Regions from separate parts of the Homo sapiens genome. Here region 2 is linked to region 1. The links come from fine-mapping of genetic effects on gene expression. A gene starts in region 1. The other region holds a variant in brackets. All regions are shown on one strand. Distances are between the middles of the regions.

What was found. PIP is the estimated chance that this variant, and not a neighbour inherited with it, causes the effect.
Region 2: its variant is the best candidate, but not a certain one, in a credible set for the expression of KDM3A in whole blood (INTERVAL, PIP 0.58).

What each region holds. Positions count from the first base shown.
Region 1 is chr2:86,439,268-86,444,267 of GRCh38, reverse strand. KDM3A (lysine demethylase 3A) reads right to left here and starts at 2,897. Exons shown (of 26, transcript NM_018433.6): 1 at 2,824-2,897; 2 at 2,035-2,250. The coding sequence starts at 2,220. RefSeq lists enhancers at 2,054-2,113, 3,104-3,183, 3,264-3,463, 3,285-3,828 and silencers at 2,314-2,363, 2,584-2,973.
Region 2 is chr2:86,547,766-86,552,765 of GRCh38, reverse strand. All of the region lies in intron 3 of RNF103-CHMP3 (RNF103-CHMP3 readthrough), which reads left to right. All of the region lies in intron 1 of CHMP3 (charged multivesicular body protein 3), which reads left to right. Among named protein-coding and RNA genes, the nearest start is that of CHMP3-AS1, 12 kb to the left of the region's middle. RefSeq lists an enhancer at 1-47. The variant G/A (reference allele first, on the strand shown) is at 1,924.

The DNA of each region.
Region 1 (5,000 bases):
GGAGAAGACACTGGGCCCAATCTGGATTCGCAGCCTCCCTCCGCAGCTAATTATGCAAATCTGGACAAGATTCCTTTTCCTAAATCTATTTCCTCATTCTGAAAATGAAGATATCACCACCTCCTCAAAGGATGGGGGCGGAGGGAGGAGATTTAAAAAATATATACATGTGAAGTTCCTCCTAGATTGCCTGCCTAACCCAACAGGTCCTCAATTGCTGCTACAGAAGGGAAGGGAACGCCTAGTCTCTCAACATCTGCCAAAGAACTAAAGACTGGAAAGTTTAAATAAAATCTTGTTTCCATTCAAATCACATAAAAACAAATGCACTAGAGAAAATTTTATTTGGCAGGCGAAATAAACCACAACAAGCACGACTGAAATCTAGTACACAAAGCCCAGCTTACAGAAAGGTTATAAGCCCAAAGCAAAAAGGTTGGCCATTCTTGCACCACAATATATTATCTCTATAAACATCAAAACCTGATTTGGCAGGAGAATGAGCCGAATGCAGGAAAAAACCAAACCTCACAGCCTATGACAGGAGCTCTGCTGTGGCATAGCTCTTGATCACTGGCCTGATGGTTAAGAGGGCAGCTTCTGGAGTAAAACTTCCTGGGTTTGACAGAATACAGGCTATGTCAATTCCTACGTATGTGTCCTTGGCAAGATGCTTAACGTCCCTCAGGCACAGTAGTTTCATCCATAAAATGGGGGCAATATTAGTACCTACCCCCAAGAACTGCTGTAAGGATTAAACGAGATCATAGTTGTGAAGTGCTTGCCACATGGTTAAATGCTCTTCGGTCACTCCTCCTTTTCAACAAGAGACAAGGCACAACACTGAAGCTTTAAAACATGCCTAACAGCATACCCCTTTCCTACAACTCTTTGCAGATAAATACCAGTTTGGGCATACACTGTCACCCTGAAAGTGTTCAAATGAACAGTGTTTCAGAAATCAACATATAATCAACTGCCAATGCTAAAACTTGCTGCCTTTATTTGAACATAGTTTAAGAAAAAGCAAAGATGATGGCCAAGTGAAGATTCTGAAACACATCTACTAGGCAGGGTGGAAATATCTTCTGTTCTGACAAGCTTCCTTCAAGTTATCACCACTTTGGAGTCTTTGTTAGGAACCTTTTTTCAGTTATTTTCGCACAAAGGAGTCTTTGTTGGTACAATGGCTTCCTCACTGCTTGTTCCCAGACAATCCTTTCACATCAATACTTCTATTAGGGAGCACAATCAGAATTCATCTGTCTTTGAAAAGATCTAACAGAAAAAGGTTCTGAGTGTCATAATGATTTAAAAAAAAATCACTGGCCGCACTTGTTCCCAATTCTCTCCCTCCCCTCATGCGTCCAAGTGCAGTATTTCTAAGCCAGTCCTCCAATATGCCATATATGGGACAGCTCCACCCCATCCCTCCATATATGGTCATATCCCACACCCACCCACCGGCTCATCACAGACAACCAGGAACCCACTCCTGCCCTGACCCACCATATACGGACAAACACCCATCCTAATACGCCAAACAGAACTTAAGCTCCTCCCTCTACACTCACTTCATTTTTAACAAGTCTGAAAGTTTTTTTAAAAGTTGAGTGAATAAATTAACAGGAACAAACAAACAAAACCAGCTGAAAGTACTTCCAAGCACTAACCTTCAATTCTTAATGACTCCAAACGTCACTTACAGGCCCTACCTAACGCTAACAAAAATACTCCTCCTCCTCTGCAGTAAAGATGAGACAGTCCTGGTGGGACACAGCACCGGCATTAATGAAGCGTGTCTGAACAACCCTAAGCCCATTATTAAAGCCAGGCAGCCAGGAGCTGTGGGCCAAACACAACTCGGCTCTATACAACCATTCCAAAGACTTTCAAGATCTAGCTTCCTGCACCTTCAGATCATATGCCAACTTTCTGGTCTCCGTTTTCAGAAAACGGAAGGAGGGAACCGATGGTCGCGTTACCACGGTAACTGCGAAACGTCCGGTGGCAGAGGCCCGGAGCCGCCTGTACCTTCAGATCCTTCTTGGTAACGTCGGTGTGGGAAACAGCTCGAATGGTCCCGGAGAGCCAGGGCCACTCGGCGACGCGCTCCACGTCCCAGCTGTCGTGGCTGCCATCGCTGCCGTCGGCTGCGGACAGACTGAGAAACCTCCTCCCCACCAATACCGGCCAACTTTCTCCGAGCGTGAGCACCATGGTTTCCACGCCTGCAGGAAGAGCTCCTCCCTGCAAAAACACAAAAACAAAATGCGACGGGGGCGGCCGGTGGGAGGGGGCCGGGCGGAGACAGCAGGGAGGGCGGGCGGAGGGCGCCGAACCCGCGCGAGGACGCGGCCCCGGGCGGACCCGCACCGAGCCCCCCTCCTGCGCCCTCCCGCCCCCCGCCGCCCTCCCCCGCCACACACCCGGGCCCCAGCGCCGCGTGACCCTCGCTCTCCCAAGTTTGGCTTTTCTAACAGCTCAAACGCAACCGCAGAGGGAGTGAGGGAAAAATTATCTGCGGCTCGAGTGGATTTGAAAGTGCTCAGCCCCCAGCCCCGAAAAGAAAAGGCCCCTGGTGCAGAGAGCCGGTCCCGGGCGGCTGGGTCCCCGCCCCGGGCGGCCCCACGGGGGAGGGTGGGCGAGCCCGCGATTCCGCACTTGCCCCGCCGCCCCGCCCCGGCGCCCAGCTCCCCGGCCCCGAACCCCGGGCGCCCGTCTCCCGGGCCTGCGCCGCTGCCAACGGGCGACGGGGCCGCGCGCTCGGCGCTTTCACCTTTCTCTCCCCTCTCCCCGCAGCCGAGGCCGCGGCGCTCTTACCCCGCCTCCCGCCTCCCTGAGTCACCGGCGGCAGCCGCCGTTTCCAGCCGCCTAGCCGACTCCAGCGCTGACTTGGTTCAAGAGCTCTCACAAGACACGCACAGCCTCCCGGACCCGCCCCCCTCGGAGCCGCTTCCGCCGCTCATTGGCTGAAACACAGGAGCTGGGCGAGGCTCCGGGGGAAACAGATCATCACCATTGGCCCCCCGGGCGAGGGCGGGGCCAGAGAAAAAAACAATTCCTTGGCTGCCTCCTCCCTTTCCCCTCCCCCTTCCGACTCCCGGGCGACCCCCATTAGGTTAAAGTACACAGAGAATAAGCGAGTGATCCCTCCGCCATAGGCCTATTCTTTCCATTTGTTGCCTCACAGTATGCAAAAAAAAAGTCCCGCGAAATCGGTTATCAACTTTGGGGCCCGGAGGAAAATTGCTGTGGCGCATAGATAAGACTGAATGGCGAGACCCTGAGCTATAAGTGCCTACTGGATTGTTCTTCAACCGCGTAGGCTGTCGACCGAAGATGAGCCTTCCACTTGGCGGAAGAATCTCACAGGAAAGGGTGAGGGCGGTGCAGGGTTAGCGGGGGAGGGCAGGGAAGAGAACGTGCGGTTTCAGGCGTACTCAGCTAGAGGGAGGAGCGATAGTGCTCTGGAGGCTCGTGCGCAGGCGCCTCGCCGAGCTTAGGCTGCTGGGCGAAATGGCTGCGGGAGGCGCAGGCGCACGTGGTACTGATCGTGGAACGTCTAAAGTCCGCCATTTTGAAGGATAAATGAAGAAAGGCGTGGAGTTACTGGATAATGACGTTCATTAAATTTAGAGCAAAAGAGACCTTTAAATACAATGTATAATGAGATTTTTTTTTCTCCAAAGTGGGATTGAGAAGGTATTCAGATACTTACAAAGAAATTTAAAGTAGTTGAAGGCCATAATGAATGATGGAAGAGATGAAAGAGAAGGTGACTTTGAAGGACAAAGGAGTTTAGAGGTGATTGTGTGCTCTGGACCTGAAGTATTTTGATTGAATGAAAAAGAAATGGAATGAAGAAATTGAAGATATGTTCATAAAGGCTAGTGTTTGACATTACATCACATTTAATCCTTAAGAAGAACTCATGCCTCCCATTTTACAAGCGTGGAAACGTATAATCAGAGAATGTTTGGAAACATATAAGGGATTATAGATGCAAATCAACTCTGGATGTTGATTTTCAATATACATATTCTGAATGTGATTTTAAGTTTTTAAAGTTAGTAACAAGAATTAAATTGGATTTATAATCTGTAGACCATTTAAAGGAAGGGGGCTGCTAAATGAGAAGAAAAAACCTATCCAGCTGAAAGAAGGCAGAAATGGGAACGAGATAAGCAAAAGAAACCAGAACATATGGTAAAAATGTTTTTCATGTGAAAAGTCCAAACATCAGTATTTACAATAAATGTAAATGGGTTAATTTCACTCACAAGTTTTAAAAGACAGTTGGGAATAAAAGGACAATCCAGCTATAAATTGACCATAAGCAAATGCTTACAAAACAGGAAGCTTGAAAATACTGGGCTAAAATATTTAATCAAATGGTAGCCAAATGAAAGCAGTATAGCAATATTAATACAATTAAAAGTATCAAAAGAGAAAGGATTTTATATTAAAGATAAAGTCCATGAAGACAGTATGGTCTCCTGAACTGTTATGAATCTAAAAACATGGCCTATCCTAAGGTGACGCTATGAACGATGAGAAATTTTACAAATTTGACAATTTGTTTTCAGAGTAGAAGACATAAATATCTCAGAAATATGCAACTCAAATGTAAAATATAAGGGAAGATATGGAGAACTTAGATTATGTAATTAAATATTAATTTGAAAAACAACTCAAGGGAAAAATTCTATTGAACCTGAAGGAACATATACTTTCTATGTTGAATTCATTATTTCAGAGCTTAGAAAAGATGGAAAGATATCCAATGCATTTTATAAAAGTTATAAAACCGTTTCACAAATTCTGAACTGGGCGAGTATAAGAAAGAAAAACTATGGTTCAATTATACTTAGGAACATAGATGGGAAATTCTTTTATAAAATACCAGCAAATTAAATCCAGCAGCATTTTTTTTAGGTAATTGATATGATTAATTAGTGTTATATGAATGCAAAGATACTTCAAGATTAGAAAATTAC
Region 2 (5,000 bases), 110 kb before region 1:
ATAAGATCCAGGTTAAACAATTTTAGCAAGAATGCCTCACAGGTAACCTGTGTGATTCATAGTGTATCACATCAGGAGGCATATAATGTCTGTCTTGTAATTAATGATGCTAATAACTTTGGCCACCTGGTTGAGGTAGTGACACACCAGATCTTTACATTATGTTTTCCTTTTTATGCTAGTAACTAACCTGAGGGGTGATATTTTAGCACCATGTGAATGTCCAGCTCTTCAGTAATCCTTCACTTAGACACATTAACATTTATAGGTGTCCCTTTCCTGAATCAGCTATTCTATAAGGGTTTTTAGAGTGGTGATTTTTCTAATTCTCTGATTTCTTTTTCATTTTTAGCTGGCAGTGTTCTATAAAGATCTGTCCCTTATTAGCTGGGGCTATTTGGTTACCTTGACATAGAGTTTCTATTGAAAATGCAGGATAAGTGCTTAATGCTCTTTATTTAATTGCTAATATTTAGAATAAAGAATTGGTATAATAATATCCGGTGGTATCAACTGCATTCTCTCTCCACCCGTTCCTCTCAGAAGCACCGTTTTGGACTCATGGATTTTTATATATTTAGTGTGTTATAGTTCTAACCATTATTCTGTTTGATACTGAAAAACTTATACATTTGGTCAGTGGGAGCTATTTCAAGCCAGTTCCTATCTGCTTTTAGCATAACTTTACTAATCTTTGAATACTTCCTTGTTTTCTAGCATATATCCTGGTATGATTTGTGAATTCCTAGCCTGAGACCTGAAATCGGCCATTTCTCCAAGATGCAGTGGTTTCTTTTAGCGGGAATGCTATTTAGATACCAAAATTTGAGTGAGCCTGATGCTTCTTGCTATTCGAGTATCCCTGCTTCTAAGCCTTTTTATGGAACAGAACTGGGAAACATGTTCTTTAAAAAATCATGAAGGTGTTTATAGACTAAGTTGCTTTGAACCAACCCTTTGCCAAAAATAACTAAAAGAGCTAAACAAAAAGTGTAACTATTTGAAATCACTGAAAGCTACCAGGGCAGTGAGAAATTGCAAAATCAAGATCTCAGCAAAGAGGGAAGCTCAGTTACATGAACCCAATCATTTGGGACTACCTTCCCCCTAAAGAGATCCTCTAATTCCTAATGCAGTGGGTGACAAATAGAATTTGAGTAGAGTTTTTGACAAACCCTGTGGTTGGGGAGTATAAAAATTGGAGTTCATGGCCGGGCATGGTGGCTCACACCTGTAATCCCAGCACTTTGGGAGGCCGAGGTGGGCAGATCCCCTGAGGTCAGTTGTTTGAGACCAGCCTGGCCAACATGGTGAAACCCCGTGCCTACTAAGAATACAAAAAGTAGCTGGGCGTGGTGGCAGGCATCTATAGTCCCAGCTACTTGGGAGGCTGAGGCAGGAGAATTGCTTGAACCTGGGAGGCAGAGGTTGCAGTGAGCCGAGATGGGTGACAGAGAGAGACTCCATCTCAAAAAAAAAAAAAAAATTGGAGTTCATAAGCAGATATTCAGGGCTTGTGGTTGGGACTCTGAAAGAATACCCCTTAGCAATAATAGTGACCTGGAAGTAGACTGGCTTTCACAAAGACTGAAGACCAGTTTCAAATAATCTCTATCCCCTGATAGGATTAATTAAGATTAGTTAAGAACCAATTGCCAGGACACTTAAGCTATATGTTTGCCAGAAGCAAATGTAATTCCTCTTTGGAAGAAGACAATATCATTCAGAAACTTAAATTATCCTGCAGATTTTCATATGTAGTCATTTCTCGGTATCTGAGGAGGATTGGTTCCAGGGTCCCTCCGCCCATACCAAAATCCATGGATGCTGAAGTACTTGATTTAAAAAGAAAAAGGTAATTGCATATAACGTATGTACATCCTCCTGTGTACTTTAATCTCTAGATTACTTATAATACCTAAT[G/A]CAATGTAAATGCTCTGTAAATAGTTGTTACACTGTATTTAGGGAATAATGATGGGAAAAGTCTACATGTTCCATACAGATGCAGCCAACCATTTGTTTTTTTAAATATTTTTGAGCTGTAGTTGGTTGAATCCACACATGTAGAACCCATGGATATAGTGGGCTGACTGTACAATATTGAGAATTCCATTCTTAAAAAATAAGTAAATGCCTTTTATTTATTACCATTTATATGATTACGAATATATCTCCCAGTTTGTAACATTTTACTTTCTTAATGGAGTCATGATGAATAAAAATTCTTAATTTCAATATAGATAAATATAAGAAGCCTTTTCCTTTTAGTGGTTATTGCCTTTGTGTCTTGTTTAAGAACTCCCCTCTCTCTCTCCCTCTCCCTTTCTCCCTCTCCCTTTCTCCCTCTCCCTTTCTCCCTCTCCCCCTCTCTCCCTCTCTCCCTCTCCTCTCCGTCTCCGTCTCCCTCTGTTGCCGAGGCTGGACTGTACTGCCGTGGTCTCGGCTCGCTGCAGCCTCCCTGCCCCGGGCTCCCGTGGTTCTCCTACCTCGGCCTGCCAAGTGCCTGGGATTGCGGGCGTGCGCCGCCACGCCTGACTGGTTTTTGCATTTTTGGAGGAGACGGGGTTTTGCCCTGTTGACCTGGCTGGTCTCCGGCTCCTGACCTCAAGTGGTCTGCCCGTCGTGGCCTCCCGGGGTGCTGGGATTGCAGACGGAGTCTCACTCACTCAATGCTCAATGTTGCCCAGGCTGGAGTGCAGTGGCGTGATCTCAGCTCGCTGCAACCTCCACCTTCCAGCCACCTGCCTTGGCCTCCCAAAGTGCTAAGATTACAGCCTCTGCCCGGCCGCCACCCCGTCTGGGAAGTGAGGAGCGTATCAGCCCAGCCGCCCATTGTCTGGGAAGTGAGAAGCGCCTCTGCCCGGCCGCCCCGTCTGGGAGGCGAGGAGCGCCTCTGCCCGGCTGCCCCATCTGGGAGGCGAGGAGCGCCTCTTCCCGGCCACCCCGCCTGGGAGGCGAGGAGCACCTCTGCCCGGCCGCCCCGTCTGGGAGGCGAGGAGCGCCTCTGCCTGGCCGCCCCGTCTGCGAAGTGGGTGCCTCTGCCCGGCCGCCCCATCTGGGAGGTGAGGGGCGTCTCTGCCCGGCCGCCACCCCATCTGGGAAGTGAGGGGCGCCTCTGCCCGGCCGCCCCGTCTGGGAGGTGAGGAGTGCCTCTTCCCGGCCGACCCTTCTGGGAGGGGAGGGGCGTCTCTGCCTGACTGCAACCCCATCTGGGAAGTGAGGAGCGCCTCTGCCTGGCCGCCCTGTCTGGGAAGTGAGGAGCGCCTCTGCCCGGCCGCCCCGTCTGGGAAGTGAGGAGCGCCTCTGCCCGGCCACCCCATCTGGGAACTGAGGAGCGCCTCTGCCCGGCCGCCCCGTCTGGGAAGGGAGGAGTGCCTCTGCCCAGCCGCCACCCCATCTGGGAAGTGAGGAGCGTCTCTGCCCGGCCGCCCATCATCTGGGAAGTGAGAAATGCCTCTGCCCGGCCGCCCCGTCTGGGAGGCGAGGAGCGCCTCTGCCCTGCCGCCCCGTCTGGGAGGCGAGGAGCGCCTCTGCCCGGCCGCCCTGTCTGGGAGGCGAGGAGCGCCTCTGCCCGGCTGCCCAGTCTGGGAAGTGGGCGCCTCTGCCCGGCCGCCCCGTCTGGGACGTGAGGGGCGCCTCTTCCCGGCCGCCCCGTCTGGGAGGTGAGGGGCGTCTCTGCCCGGCCGCCACCCCGTCTGGGAAGTGGGGGGCGCCTCTGCCCGGCTGCCCTTCATCTGGGAGGTGGGGAGCGCCTCTGCCTGGCCGCCCCATCTGGGAGGCTAGGAGCGCCTCTGCCCAGCTGCCCATCATCTGGGAGGTGGGGAGCACCTCTGCCCGGCCCATCATCTGGGAGGTGGGGAGCACCTCTGCCCGGCTGCCCATCGTCTGGGATGTGAGGAGCGCCTCTGCCCGGCCACCACCCCATCTGGGAAGTGAGGTGCGCCTCTGCCCGGCCGCCCCGTCTGGGAGGTGAGGAGCACCTCTGCCCGGCTGCCCCGTCTGGGAAGTGAGGAGTGCCTCTGCCCGGCCACCCCATCTGGGAAGTGTACCCAATAGCTCCGAAGAGACAGTGACCATCGAGAACAGGCCATGATGACGATGGCGGTTTTGTTGAAAAGAAAAGGGGGAAATGTGGGGAAAAGAAAGACAGATCAGATGGTTACTGTGTCTGTGTAGAAAGAAGGAGACATAGGAGACACCATTTTGTTCTGTACTAAGAAAAATTCTTCTGCCTTGGGATGCTGTTAATCTATAACCTTACCCCCAACCCCGTGCTCTCTGAAACATGTGCTGTGTCAACTCAGGGTTAAATGGATTAAGGGTGGTGCAAGATGTGCTTTGTTAAACAGATGCTTGAAGGCAGCATGCTCATTAAGAGTCATCTCCACTCCCTAATCTCACGTACCCAGGGACACAAATACTGCGGAAGGCCGCAGGAACCTCTGCCTAGGAAAACCAGAGACCTTTGTTCACGTGTTTATCTGCTGACCTTCTCTCCACTATTATCCTATGACCCTGCCACATCCCCCTCTTTGAGAAACACCCAAGAATGATCAATAAATACTAAAAAAAAAAAAAAAAAAAAAGAGAACTCCTCCTCTAACCTGAAATCATAAATGTATTCTCCTATACTGTCTTCTTAAAACACCACAGTTTTGCATTCCATATGTCTTCAGTCCACCTAGAATGAATTTCAGTGAAGGATGGAACAGGAATTCAATCATTTTGTTTTCTATTTGTCTTAAGCTGTCTCTCAGCATTGTTCATGGAAAATAACCTCTTAATGGTGTTAGTTTCCTTTGCCTAGTTTCGCATATAATAGACCTCTGTGAATGAATTTGAATAAAGGATAATATTTTGGTAGTGTGAAACTCTTTCTATAGGTTCCTTGTGGTTTTCAAATATATTGTCTAATTTACTAGTTGATTTTTTATTCTGTACACGTTATGTTCTGTTTTACTTAATTATAAGGGCCTCATTTACTACTGAAATCCTATTGG